Homo sapiens: one gene and its partner. The protein of the gene in region 1 interacts with the protein of each later gene in a pairwise test. Each region holds a gene or a part of one and is shown on either strand. Other genes may lie near its edges.

Region 1 (7,622 bases):
AACATAGGGAGACCCTGTCTCTACAAAAAAATTTTAAAAATAGCCAGGCAGGGTGGCATGCACCTGCAGTCCCAGCTACAAGGGAGGCTGTGGTGGGCAACAGAGTGAGACCCTGTCTCAAAAACAATCAATCAAAAATAATAGGATTGGGGTGAACAGGCCCTGAGGAACTGGTCCCTCAGTCACCCAAGGTATGGGGGGCTGACCACTCTTCCATCACAGAGGGGCCAGAAGGACCCTCGGTCTGACTGCACACTCTAGCGTAGCCCCAGAAATAGGTTCCCACCTGAGTGTGTGTGTGTGTGTGTGAGCATTAGTGTGCACCCACTGGACAGCAAGAGTGGAGGGCTGGCCTCTGGTCACCTGCTCCGGCTTAAGGCCTGGGGGCACCCAGGCATACTCCTCCGATGCACAGCCTGAGTCGTCGTCGGAGATGGAGTGGCGCTGGAAGTCCGAGATTAGCCGACACATGATGCGTTCCAGGTCCACAGGCACCGCGTGCACTGCATGCTCCTCCCGCGGGCATTTGCAATGCTGGCAGATCTTTCTGAGGGGGCCGGGATGGGGGTCAATTACTAAGGAGTTGCCCACCCGAACCCCTCGGCAGCCCAGGTCCAATGGAGGAGCGGGGACATACAGATTATCACCACCAAAGGTCTGTGAGCAGGGACAGGGATCTGGGCCTGGGGGCAGGGCTGCAGGAGGTGGGCCTATGAGCCAGGGTGTGGCTGGGCTGTGAGCCAGAGGACAGGTCGTGGGGAGTGGGATGCTTTGTGGGGGAACTTTCACTAGACACAGGCATCTAACCTGTGGTGAGGCTCTGAACTTGTGGGCTCTGAGCCTGTGGGTAGGGCCTGAGTCTGGGGGCTGTAGGCTCTGTTTATTGGGTGCAGGGCTCCAGCAGGAGGATAGGACGCTGGGCCTGGGAGAGTAGGTCTGAGTCTAAGAGGGGTGCTGGAGGCCAGAGGGCGGCGCTCAGAGTTAGAGACGAAGAATCTCCCTAGGGATGCGACTCCGCGGCTACGGGAGAACACTTCTGGGGGCGGGGCTGCGTAGTGGGTGGAGCTCTCCTGGGAAAGGACTTTGGGGAATGAGTCAGGGGGCGGGGCTCTGAATCTGAGCCTGAGGCTCTTTTCCCAACTGAGATCCCTCTGTAGGCGGAGCTCAAGCGTAGGGGCGTGGCGTAAGGCTCCTGGATTTCCCCCCGAAGGCGGAGCTCTGACAAAGGCGAGGCCCTTTAGGGGCGCCACTTACCTCCAGCCGTGGAGCAGGAAGCCAGGGCACTGCTCCCTACAGGAGTTGCAGGGCTGGCCCCGGTCTGGGTCCTCTGCCTCTGGAGGCTGCAGTGGGCGGGGGCAGATGCAGGGCCGGGTGAGGCGCGGAAGCAGGGAAGGAGAAGTCAACGCCCGCCCCTCCACTTCATTGCCCGCGACCGCACGCTGGGGCCTGTCTTACCTGGGCAGCGCTGGGCAGGCTGGGACAGCGCCCAGAGTGCGGGGGAGCGGGACACAACCGAGGCAGAGGCGGGGCAGTTGGAGCCACCTCCTTATATGTCCCCTTTTCAGGGAATTCCCCTTCCTAGGCTGGCCTCGGACCCCCCTCCCCGTCCGCCCCTAGCCTCAGACACCTCCCACCAGCCTTAGATCCTTCCAGGGCTCAAGCACCTCCCCTATAATTCATTGTACTCTCCCCACTAGAGCACAGAACCCCTACTCTGGGCATCCTCTCCCCGGCCTCATCCCGGTTCCCTCTCCATCTACGCCGCCAGCAGCACTCCAGTTCCACAGGGTAGGAGACGAGACCGCATTCTTCCTTGAGATCCCCACGTGAACCCTGCCCCTCTCTTCAGAAGCTCAGGAGCTCCTCCCCTAAACCCTGGCCTCATGCCCTGATACCCAAGGAACTGGGGACCCTCCCCAGGATCTCAGGAGGCCCCTGCTCCATTCAGAAACCCCCATCCCAAGAAACCTTGGCCTTTACCCATCCCATCCTAGGGCTATTTATTCCTTCTCCGGACCATCAAACCCAGACCCCACATTCCCAGGTCAGAGACCCACTCCAAAGGAAGTGAAAGAACCTCCTATCTAAGAAGTCAAAAACTCCCTTGCTCAGGCGGAACCCTGGAAGCCTTGTCCCCCCAAATCCCAGTCTCTTGACTCTCAGCATTTCGGCATCCCAGGAGTGTAGGACTCCATCCCTCCGTGCACATTCCTCCAAGGTACTGTGTCCTTTAGAAGCTGAGGAGGTCGGCCAGGCTCGGTGGCTCACGCCTATAATCCCAGCACTTTGGGAGGCCGAGGTGGGCGGATCACCTGAGGTCAGGAGTTCGAGACCAGCCTGGCCAACATGGTGAAACCTTGTCTCTACTAAAAATACAAAAATTAGGCGGGCGCGGTGGCGGGCGTCTGTAATCCCAGGTACATGGGAGGCTGAAGCAGGAGAATCGCTTGAACCCAGGAGGCGGAGGTTGCAGTGAGCGGAGATAGCGCCACTGCACTCCAGCCTGGGTGACAGAGATTCAGTCTCAAAAAAAAAAAAAAAAAAAAAAAGCAGCAGCTCAGGAGGTTCCTGCTCAACCTAAGGCTTCAAGACCCAGTTCTCTGGCCCTCAGGATTCCCTCCCACAATTCATAAGAGAGGGGTCCCCACCAGGTCCCAGGAGTGCTGATGAAAGTGTGTGGAGAGGTGATTAGGGGGTTTGGGCCACCAGATCTACACCTTCCTCCATCCATTCGCCTCCAGCAGCCCCAGCCCCAGGTCTGGGAATGCAGGGGATGGGATTCCCAGATCCTCTGTGGGGCACCTATTCGCTATGCCTATCCATTGCCCCCTTGCCTGGGCCTCAGTTTACCCCCGACCCCCACCGCTGCCCTGACTCCCGCTCACCGCACGCCCGGAGCGGCGCCTCCGGGACCCACGCGCGAACATGGCGCGCCCGGGCAGGGTCAAGCCGGGCCGGGTCAGGCGAATGTAATCCTTGCGACCGTCAGGCCACCGCGCGTCCGGCCTGGGAACTCGGTTCCGTAAACCTGACACCCTCGTGGGAGGAGCGCGCCCCGCAGGGCCCGCCCCCGGGCATGTGGTCTCTCCGCTGCCAGGGCGCCCCCTGCCTAGAGGTGAACTGCACGTAGCCCGGAGTGCCCCGCGGGAAAGGCCTCTGCCCTCCCGCTCCGGGCCGGTGCGGGGCGTCACAAGGCACGACCCCCAGAATCCCGGCGTGCCACGTGGCCTCTCACGGGACCTGGGGCTTGAAGGTTCTGTAGTGGAGGATGGGGAGACTCAGAGGTGGCCAACTGGACTGAGAGGGGTGGCGCGCTAGGGTGCTTGTGTTGACGTTTTGTGTCGATTTATTTCGGATGCTTATTTGGGAGAGGGGTTAAAGACACCTCTTGGCTCCTCCCCACTGGTGAGGTTCCGAGGGTCTCCCCGATGAATGCTGCAACAATGGGCCCCAACCTCACCCGCAGCCCCAGCTGGTGCTCGCTGGGAACCTGGGAACCTGGCCCTAGCCACCAGAGAGCTAGATCTTATACGCACTCCTCCCTTCTCATTCCCCTCTCAGCGAGGCCAGGTTCCAAAGCCCTCGTCCCCTCTCTCCCCTCATCCTTATAAGCCTAGCTGTCCAGCCCCGTCCCCCCACCCCAAGTCTTGAGAAGTAGATCTTAAAGCCTTCCCTCCCCCACCCACATTTTTCTCTCTCCAGTTATCCCCTTCCCCAGCTCAGTTCCAGGGCGGGGAGCCTCTCCTTCACGCTCTCAGGCTTGGCTGTGCCTCCGGGCTGGGGGGAGGGGGTCCCATGGCCTCAGTCAGAACTCGGCCCGGGTCTCTATGCACGGAGACTGCAGCGGCCAGGCCCTTCATCGCGGGCCCCGGGGACCTCTCCCCGCCCCCCATTACACATGTCCCTGTCACTTCCCGTGGAGTGGAGAGGTAAAAGAGAATAACTAATGAACTAAGGAGTCACCCCGGCGCCCCACCTCCCCTCCTTGCCTAACCTGTCTCCCATTTCTCCAGCCTGGGCGGAGGCAGGGAAAGGAGAGACAGTAGGGTCTGAAGATTAGGGATGGGGTCAGGCAATGTGAGGTTTCCTCCTATTCGGACCCCTTGGGGATTTGAGGAGAGGGTTCCACAGGGGCTCGGAAGAGGCTTGGCTAAGGGACCAGAATTAGAACCAACTCCTAGAAAGACCGGGCATTTGGTGGCCAGTAGTGGGAGGGTGAGCAGGGCTACTCAGAGAGTGACAGAGTGATTGGCAGGAGAGGCTTCCCAGAGGATGCTGCTCTGCCTAACACTTTTGAAGGGGCCTGAAATGGTGCAGCAAGCTGAACTGCGGTCGGTGGGTCCGGGTGGAGCTTGTTCTCACCACCTCTCCCTCCTTTCTCCCCCGGCCAACCTCCTCCCCGGCGCCCGAAAAAGACACACTGAGAAATCAGAGCCGGGTAGACTAGGTGGTTAAGGAGTTTATTTGGGAGAGGAGAATCATATTTGTTCTTCCTTGGGGAGGGGGGTTCTTTGAACAATACCGAAGGGTTTGGGAAAGGGTAGGGGTCTGGAGGGGAGAAGGAGGGGCCACAGCCAGACAAAATGGCAACACACGATCACAGGCACTACTGACATCACAGACATAGCAGAGGGTGCAGGATAGGGGCTCCAGACCAGGCCTCCAACCACCCCAGGACGGGTGGAGGTGTGGAGGGAGGGAGGGCGCAGGGGAAGGGGGAAGAGGGGTGGGCCAGTCCCACAGACCCGTTGGTTCTGTCCTCCTATTAACCTAGCTGTTTCATCACGGGAGTGGGGAAGGGTGTGTGTGGTGGGGTGCTTCTCTCTGGATCCCACGCCTCACCCTACAAGCCATATCACTCGACTCTTCTCAGGCCACTTCCGTCCCAAGTCGTAGCCAGAGCCATTCTCCCCCACCCCTAACAAAACCCATCTGGAAGCTCCTATCCAAGTCCCCTCTCCACTGCCCAAACCCAGCCATTGTAAAACATTTTCTTCACTGCACCATGGGGAGGGGCTGCCCTTTCTGAAACCACCATGGAAGCCCCATTCTAAGCCCCACCCTGTCTGGAACCCTGGCTTGGCCCATTCCTGAATCCCACTTCTTGCCTTGCTCAAGATCTGTCCCCTTTAGAATCAAGCTCAGTCTCCCAAATGTTCCAAGCCACACCCTTTCCATAGGCTCTGGTACCAATCCAAGACCCACCTACTCTGGAGCCCACCATTCTGCCTCGCTTAAAGCCTCGCCCCTTCTAGAACCCTGCCCTCAGCGCCCTTCCAAGCCCCACCCCAGAATGCTCTAGCGCACTCCTCTCCTTCAGACTCCAGATCCACTCTGTCTGGAACCCAACCCCCCTGCTGACCCCTCCACTCCACACCTCCTCTCCAAGACCACCTTGGGTCCTAAACTGTCCTCTCTACCCCAAGCCCCCCCAATCTCTGCCTTTCTTTAACCCTGGAGTTGGATTTCCCTAACGGCCTTTGTTCAGGCAGGCATTGCTGGAGGAACCAAGGCCAGAGTTGGGAGGAGTGGAGGGAGAGAGAGGAGAGAGTCTGAAGTCACGCCCACCCTCCCCACACAGCCGAGGTCTGTTCCCTCCCTGTCCTCCTTTTAGATCCCCTTAACCTCAGGGGACAGGGAGGGTAAACAGAGAGGGGCCAAGGGATGCAGGGAAAGGGACGGGGTAAGAGAGGGGGCCCACTCAAGACTGGGCACCTAGTGGATGAGGGGAGTGGAGTGAGGGCAGGGCTCAGACAGATAAATAGATATTTATATATAATATATATATATATAAACAGCAAAGACAGGGTCTCCTGGCTTGAGGGGTGGAGACCTAGGGTATAGGGGTGGGAAGGGGGGCAGGCCTTCTCCTGAGCTCTTGCCCCCCCCAGGTCCTCCTGGGCTTCACTGACCTGTAGAGACAAAAGACACAGAAAGGAGAGGGGGTCTGACATGGGTGGCGCCCTCAGATAGGGGTTGGGCTGTTATGCCTTTGTCCTGGCTTTATGTCTTTTCTTCTTTCCTGGAGCCAGCTTCATCCCAGCTGCCTCTGCTGAGAAGATATACCTGACCTTGCCCCCACTGGGTTAGGTACCAAAGAGATTACAGTCTCCTTCCTCCAACCAAAAAAATAGTCCCTTAACAGGTACTGTTCTAGCCATTTGTGATAAACTATATTGAGCAAAACAAAGATCCCTGTCTTTGTGGAGCTTATACTGAAGCAGAGATAGACTTCACACAGCGAACATGATGCATGAGTGGATTATCTCGTATAACATAGGGTGACAATAATAAGTGAAATGGAAAAAATAAAGTGAGCTGGGCATGGTCGCTCACACTTATAGTCTCAGCTACTTGGGAGGCTGAGGTGGGAGGATCACCTGAGCCCAGGAGTTCAAGTCTAGCATTCCTAAAGTGCTAGGATTACAGGCGTGAGCTACCACGCCCAGCCTGCGACAGGGCAGAGTTCTGACACAGGAGGACTGTGGCCTAATTTAGGATTTAACAGAATCCCTCCAGATGCTGTGAGTAGAACAGAATGGAAATGGAGACCTGAGAAGAGGTCTGGGAGAGATGACAGTGGAAGATGAAGGATATATTTTTTGAAGGTAGGACCCACAGGATTTTTTGATGAATTAGATGTGGGATGCCCTTTCCATCCTGGCTAACCCAGTGTCAGAAGCTACCTCCATCCAAGTATTGCCACCTTCTTGCCTTCCCCCACTTTTTAGCCACCCCTTAGCCTTTTCCTCCTGCCTTTCCTCCCCTATATCCTCCCTCCTATCTGAGGGAAATCTCACTTCTCTTTTTCTTTTTTTTTTTGTTTTGAGACAGAGTCTCGCTCTGTTGCCCAGGCTGGAGTGCAGTGGCGCAATCTCGACTCACTGGAACCTCCGCCTCCCAGATTCAAGCGATTCTCCTGCCTCAGCCTCCAGAGTAGCTGGAACTACAGACGTGCGCCACCATGCCCGGCTAATTTTTATATGTTTAGTAGAGACGGGGTTTCACCGTGTTGGCCAGGCTAGTCTCGAACTCCTGACCTCAGGTGATCTGCCCACCTTGGTCTCCCAAAGTGCTGGGATTACAGGCATGAGCCACCTCACCTGGCCTCTTTTCTTTCTTTCTTTTTTTCTTCCTTTCTTTCTTTCCATTTTTTTTTTTTTTTTGAGACAAGGTCTCGCTCTGTTGCCCAGGCTGGAGTGCAGTGGCAGGATCATAGCTCACGGCAGCCTCAACCTCCTGGGCTTAAGTGATCCTCCCACTTCAGCCTCCTGAGTAGATGGGTCCACAGATGCATGCCACCACGCCCGGCTAATTTTTGTATTTTTTGTAGAGGTGGGATTTCATCATGTTGCCCAGGCTGGTCTCGAACTCTTGGGCTCAAGCGGCCCGCCCGCCTCGGTCTCCCAAAGTGCTGAGATTACAGGCATGAGCCACCAAGCCCCGACCCTCACTTCTCTTTTAAGGCCCAGCAAGAAGGCCGGCAAACCTTTCCAGGACCCCACCCTATCCCTCTTCCTCCTTTGAAATTCCACACTACTTCCCTCCCCTCCAGCGTTGGGGAGAGGCGGCAGATCTATCCCCTCCTCCCGGATTGGTGAGCTCGTCTGACCTTCAAGATC
Region 2 (6,933 bases), on another chromosome or scaffold:
GAGGTTGTAGTGAGCCGAGATCGTGCCACTGCACTCCAGCGTGGGCGACAGAGTGAGACTCCGTCTCAAAAAAATAATAGTAATAATATTAACTGGGCGCAGTGGCACGCGCCTGTCATCCCAGCTACTCGGAGGCTAGAACCTCAGAGCGCCCGCTTCACCTCCCATCTGGGCTGAGTCTACCTCCTGGATCTCGCTCCTTCCTGGTCTTGCTCATCATCCCTAAATTCCCTGTCCAGGGCATGATAACAGTCAGGCTTCCCTGGTTCAAATCCTGGCCGTGCCCTGCTTGGCAGCTGTGTGACCCTAGGCAAGTTACTCAACCTCTCTGGGCCTCATCTCTGACACAGGATGACAGCAGTCAAAGTGGGTTCATCTCAGATGGCTGTGAGGATTAGATGAGGTAATACACCTGAACCTGGGAGGCGGAGGTTGCAGTGAGCCGAGATCGTTCCACTGTGCTCCAGCCTGGGTGACAGAGCCAGATTCAGTCTCAAAAAAAAAAAAAAAAAAAAAAAAAAAGCAGTAGAGTAGCTGGAATGCAGGTGAGGAGGCTGGGGGGGCGGGGTGGGTGAGGGCTGGGCGCTGAGGAATTCACTGGATGGCTGGGAGGAGGGGAGGAGCAGCCTGGGACAGCCAAGGCTGGAGTGGTGAGGTTGGGGGGAGATGAGGAGGCCTGAGCTGGGGCTGTGGCAACCGAGAGGAAGAACCAGGGCAGAGAGTCAGGGGACAGGGGTGGGGGTTGGGGACTGACAGGCTGGGGGCGAGCAGAGGGGGAAGTCGGGGCCAGGAGAAGCCCTGTGGATCTGAGCCAGTGATGGGGAGGGGACATCCCTGAGATGGGCAACCTGGGAGGAGGTGCGAATCTGGGGGGGTACGTGGCGTATCTGAGGGGGTCTGGGAGGGGCACATCCCGAAGGAAGTGGGCCCCAGGGGGATGCTCCAGCAGGCTCGCTGGGGAGAGGCACGCTTCCAGGCCTGGGGGATTCCAGAAGTGCCTGGAAGTTTGAGGTCCTAAGGGCACCCCCCCAGGGCTCTGCAGCCATCAGGGCTGGAGGAGTCTTGCAGGGGAGGGCTATTCTCCCCCACGATGACGAAACCGAGCTTCGCAGAGGGTCAGTGACTAAACCAAGGTCACCCACTTAGCGAGGTCACTCAGGGCGTTTTATGACCAGCTGGCAGAGCCGTCGCGGAGATAAAAAAAAGGCTCCCAGGTGCCTGGCTGGGGTGGGGGTGAGGCCTTCCCAGAGGCGGGAACCCTGGAGGCGAGCTGGCTTATCTGTTTATCTCTGGAGAGAAGAATTGCAGAACTCAGAAGTCCTGGATTAGACAATGTTGAGTAAAGAATGCTGGGGCCTCCCTCACGCAGAACTGGGCCAGCCTGGTCACAGCTCTCAGCCCAGGAGGCCCAGAGACATCAGGAAGCTTGTCTAGGTCACACAGCAATCAGGATTGAACTGCTCCTGTCTCTGGAGTCCCAGGCACCCAGGAAGGCCTCTTCATGCCCCAGCTTCTGGCTGAGGGAGGGGAGGGGAGGGCCTGAAACAGTGGAATGAAATGAGGCGGCCAGGCGTGGTGGCCCACGCCTGTAATCCCAGCACTTTGGGAGGCCGAGGCAGGTGGATCACCTGAGGCAAGGAGTTCAAGAACAGCCTGGCCGACATGGTGAAACCCTTTCTCTACTAAAAATACAAAAATAAAATTAGCCGGGCATGGTGGCGGGCTCCTGTAATCCCAGTTACTTGGGAAGCTGAGGCTGGAGAATCACTTGAACCCAGGACGCGGAGGCTGCAGTGAGCTGATATCGTGCCATTGCACTCCAGCCTGGGCAACAAGAGCGAAACTCCATTTCAAAAAAATAAAATAAAATAAGAAAGGAATGAGGCAACTGGGCTGAGAACAGGTCTTGGTTGTCTCCCTCCTCACAGCCCACGGTGGCTGGAGGGGCCCAGGCTGCCAGGAAGGTCTCACTTGGCAAGAGTGCAAGATACGAGGGGTTGGAGATTGTCTCAGCAGTTTGCTGTGTGATCTGGGGCAGGCTGCCTGCCCTCTCTGGGCCTCTGCGCTCCCCTAAAAGATGGAGCCACGGGGAGGGGTGTAAAGGGGACATCACCAAGGCTGTGAGGAGCAGGAGAAACCACAGGCTCTGGCGTGAGACAGACCGGGTTCAGATTTGCTTCTAGCTGCGTAATTGCGGTCATGTCGCGTTCCCTCCCAGCCTCAGTTTCCCCATCTGGAAAGCAGGTACTGTCAAAGTGTCTGACTCATCCCCAGGAAGAGGGAGTCACGCTGAGCTCATGGAAGTGGGCAGTGCTCTGCCCTAACCACTGTTAGGAGACCTGAAGAGTCCAGAGCCTGCCCTCTCCGCCCCAAGTGCCCTAGAACACAGCTTCTCCCTCTGGGGGTCTCAGCAGCATCCCAGTCTCTCCCATTTCACCCCCAAGCACCCCCGTTATTTCAGGGCTTGCATGGGGTGTCCTGGGTACTACAGGCTGTTGTGTTTCCTGAGCAACTACTATGCACCAAGCTGCCTGCTCTCTTCCACTGCTCTATCAGGGAGACACAGGGCTTGTGGGCCCCTTTGACAGACAGAAAAACTGAGGCCCGGAGAGCGACAGGGACACCCCAGGCATCCCCACTGGTGACTCAACACGGTCGGGTCCTCACTCCCTTCTCAGGAGGGACCTATACACCACACTGGATGCCCCAGCCCAGCCCAGCCCCTCCAGCTAAGTCTGGGCCAGGCCTGCGGCTGCGGGTGGCTGGAGGCCACCCTTGCCACAGTCCCCGGCTCCCCCAAACAGCCACCTCCTCCCTGGGATCTCCTGGCTCCTGCCCAGGTCTGGGCCTCACCTGATTTCCGAGATGTCATCTTCATAGGTGTCCCACAAGCCCGGGATCTGGGGCTCGGCGGGCCCGTCCATGGCAGGTGGGTGAGGGTGGGGAGGGGAGGACGAGCAGGGAGCAGGCGGCACAGAGGCCAGGTGTGCGCAGCGACAGCGTCTGCCACCTGGGGAGCCCGCCAGGTGCCTACTCCGTGCCCGGCCCAAGGGGAGGGGCAGCACCCAGCCGGTTCTCCCAGCTGCTACCCACGCCTCCAACAGCGGGGAGAGGCCAGAGGGAGCCACCCTGCTCTGAGGGCGGGGAGGAGCAGTGATGGGCACGTCCTGGCGTCTGGTGCTCAGCTGGGGGCAGAGTCCAGGGGGTCAGTGCCAAGCCCACGCCAGAACCTTCCGGGCTGGCAGTTCTGGGCCTGTGGGCACCCACCTGGAGCCCACGTTGCTCATTTGGGAAATGGCGCTGATCTCGCCCATCTCAGCGAGTTCATTCATTCATTCATTCATTCACTCATTCATTCCTTTATTCATTTGAGAAATATTTACTGAGCATCTCCTGTCTGCCAGGCGCTGTTCCAAGCACTAGGCCACCGCTGGGGAAGGGGCAGACAGAAACTTGCCCTCACGGGCTGACGCGTAAGGGGCACCCTGGAAACAGACACAGGGACAGAGGCACAGCCAGGACCACGGCAGCACAGACAGGGCGGGAGCCAGGGAGAAAGGGAGAGGGCAGAGGGCATGGGAGACAGAGACCAGGAGGGGACTGAGATGCACAGGGGCCAGAGACCTTGAGAGACGCAACAGAGATACACGGAGGGCGGAGACAGAGACACACGGACACCCAGAGGAGACAGAGACACACAGGGGTCAGAGACCCTGAGAGACCCAGCAGCGATATACAGAGGGCAGAGACAGAGATACATAGAAAGGTCAGGGACAGGGAGAGACACAGATATGAGAGACAACTGCCAGATATGGTTGGGCGTGAGAGTCTGAAGGTCACAGCCCTGGTTCAAATCCCAGCTCCAGTGCCTCCCAGCTGTGGGGCCGGGAACCATCTTGCTCATAGGCTCATCTTGCCTTAGTTTCCCCATCTGTGAATGGCACCCATCGGGCTGTTGTGAGGACTGAGGGAGACACTCTCAGCTGCTGGTGGAGGATCTGGTACACAGTGAGCTCAGCATAGACGGTGTTCTCTTCTCTTCTGCCCCCACCCCAAACCCTGGCCCTCCCCAGCTGTTGGTCCCTGACCCCTCAGAGTCCTGGAGTCATGAAGCCAGTCTCCCCACCAGTGGTGGCAGGTGCCTGTAATCCCAGCTACTTGGGAGGCTGAGACACGAGAATCGCTTGAACCTGGGAGGTGGAGGTTGGAGTGAGCTGAGATCACATCACTGCACTGCAGCCTGGGCGACAGAGAGAGACTCCATCTCAAAAAAAAAAAAAAAATGCCAAAAGAAAGCCTGTGCAATGGCTCACGCCTGTAATTCCAGCACTTTGGGAGGCCGAGGCGGGTGAATCGCCTGAGGTCAGGAGTTCAAGACCAGCCTGGCCAACATAGTGAAACCCCATCTCTACTAAAAATACAAAAAATTAGCTGGGCATGGTGGCAGGTGCCTGTAATCCCAGCTATTCGGGAGGCTGAGGCAGGAGAATCACTTGAACCCTGGAGGCAGAGGTTGCAGCGAGCCAAGATTGTACTGTTGCACTCCAGCCTGGGCAACAAGAGTGAAACTCCATCTCAAAAAGAAAAAAAAAAAAAGCCAAAACAAATAAAATTGTATATACTGACCAATTATTGTTGCATAGGTGAGGGGGATGGAAGACGTCAGACTCACCTAACAGATGCAGGAAGGGGGCCCAGAGAGGTAATGTGGCTTCCCCCAGGGCACACAGCACTGCCCGCCTTCACTCTGATGGTAAGCAGAAAAGGAGGGTTCTGGGGTATCCCATCTCTCAATTCACCACCCCAAGACCCGTCTCCAGGAGGCTGAGCTGTGGGAGCACCCGCCCCTGCCCCCAGCCACTACCGAGTCCACATCCTCAACATTCTGCCTTGATACTTTCAGTGTTAAGCCTTGATGTTCCTGCTGATAAAAAGGCTCTCTTGCAGGGTGGGTGGAAGGGTGAGAGGGCCAGGCATCCCCCTCTGAGGCTGAGTGAACCCCTCTGATGTCGGAGGTGGGGGACTGAACCATGACACCCCACCAGGCCTCCGGCTGGGCTGTCTTCACCTTTGTTTTCTATTCAATGACCCTTTGTCCCTGGCTCTGTGTGCTGCTGGGGTGGGGGGTTAGGGAGAGTCTGGGGAAGGGAATGCCCAGGTCCTTAGGGATCCTGAGAGGGAAACTCGCAGGCAGGTGCGGAGGCATCCCCGGGGCACAGGAAGGTTGGGGAGCAGTAGGGCCTGAGGTTGTGCCTGAGTGGGCAATGGAAAGAAACTGGCCAAACTAGGCGGCCTAAGACCCAGGGGAGGCTCCTACTGCAGGGCCTTTGCCCTTGCTATTCCCGCATGTTCCTGATACCTGGGAGCTTCGTGGGCTCCTATCGTCTGACTCTGCCCAGTGTCACCTCCCCCAGGCTCGTCCACCAACTTCTCCATTCCTCTTTCCTGTTTTACTTTTTCCCATAGCACTCGTCACCATCTGACCTCCTAAATGTTTTGCTTCTTTGTCTTGTTTACCATCTATCTCCCCACTAGACTGTCAACCCCATGAAAGAAGGGCTTGTTCTATGTCAAATCTGCGGTTATTTCCCAAGGGAAGAGCCTGGAATATAGTAAATGCTCAATAAGTGCCTGTTGATGGAATGAATGAATTGTCACAGGAAGACGTGATGGAATGAGTGAAGGTCATGGTGGTGCCAGGAGAAGTCCACTGAATCTCTGTGGAGAATGAGGAGGGAGCTGAGGAGATGCAAAAGCCTGATTCTGGAAGGCGAGGGGTCCAGACTCCTACAGAGGTGGCAAGGAGGAACCAGAAGACACCAGAGTGACATTTTAGCCAATTGTGAGAGTGCAGAGATACTAGTGGAGACCATCAACCCCCAGAAATGAATCTGAGGGTCTTGGACATCTGGGAGACAAGGACGAGACCAGAAGGATGAAGGAGTGGGCTGGGCTTGGTGGCTCATGCCTGTAATCCCAGCACTTTGGGAGGCCCAGGCGGGTGGATCACGAGGTCGGGAGTTCAAGACCAGCCTGGCCAACATAGTAAAACCCCGTCTCTACTAAAAATACAAAAATTAGCCGGGAGTGGTGGTGGGTGCCTATAATCCCAGCTCCTCAGGAGGCTGAGGCAGAGAATTGCTTGAACCCAGGAGGTGGAGATTGCAGTGAGCCGAGATTGTGCCACTGTGCTCCAGCCTGGGCAACAGAGCAAGACTCGGTCTCAATTAAAAAAAAAAAAAAAAAAAGATGAAGAGTGTGGGAAAATGCAAGTGGAAAACCCAGAGCCACTTGGTCATGGGTAGTGAGAGGAGCAAGGATTATACATCCATTCATCCCTCCAGCTGTTCATCCCTCTATCTATGCATCCACCTGTCCCTCTATTCATCCATCATCCATCCACCCGACCATCCACCCAACCATTCATTCAGCCACCCAACCACTTATCCAATCATCCATTCAACATCCATCTATCTACCCATCCAACCATCCATCCCTCCATCCATTCATCAGCCATCAAACCATCCACCTCTTCATCCATTCATCATCTATCCATCCATTCATCCATCCAACCATCTACTCAACCATCCATCTATCCAGCCATCCATCACCCATCCATCCATTTTCCATCCATTCATCTAGCCACCCAACCATCCAACCATCCATCTATCCATCCATCCTGCATTCATTCAGCCATTTATTCATCCATCACCCAACCATTCCTTCATCTATCCATTCATCCATCCATCCTGCCATCCATTCATCACTGTCTATCCATTCATCCATCCAAGCATCTACTCAACCATCCTTCTATCCATCCATCCATCCTCTATTCATCCACTCAGCCAGGTATCCATTCAACCAGCCATCTATGCATCCATCTTTCTATGCATCCTCCATCCATTCATCCATCCATCCAACCATCTACCCATC

What was found.
Region 2: the proteins of PRICKLE3 (region 1) and SULT2B1 interact in binary tests that used the Homo sapiens proteins (3 or more experiments, as listed by UniProt).

The regions. Positions count from the first base shown.
Region 1 is NC_000023.11:49,183,371-49,190,992, forward strand, and holds the start of PRICKLE3 (prickle planar cell polarity protein 3), read right to left. Parts: upstream 3,004-7,622; 5' UTR 2,928-3,003; coding exon 2,886-2,927; intron 1,524-2,885; exon of another isoform or gene 1,456-1,523; intron 1,341-1,455; coding exon 1,255-1,340; intron 548-1,254; coding exon 364-547; intron 1-363. UniProt on the Homo sapiens protein: Involved in the planar cell polarity (PCP) pathway that is essential for the polarization of epithelial cells during morphogenetic processes, including gastrulation and neurulation.
Region 2 is NC_000019.10:48,548,244-48,555,176, reverse strand, and holds the start of SULT2B1 (sulfotransferase 2B1), read right to left. Parts: upstream 3,006-6,933; 5' UTR 2,925-3,005; coding exon 2,854-2,924; intron 1-2,853. UniProt on the Homo sapiens protein: Sulfotransferase that utilizes 3'-phospho-5'-adenylyl sulfate (PAPS) as sulfonate donor to catalyze the sulfate conjugation. Responsible for the sulfation of cholesterol.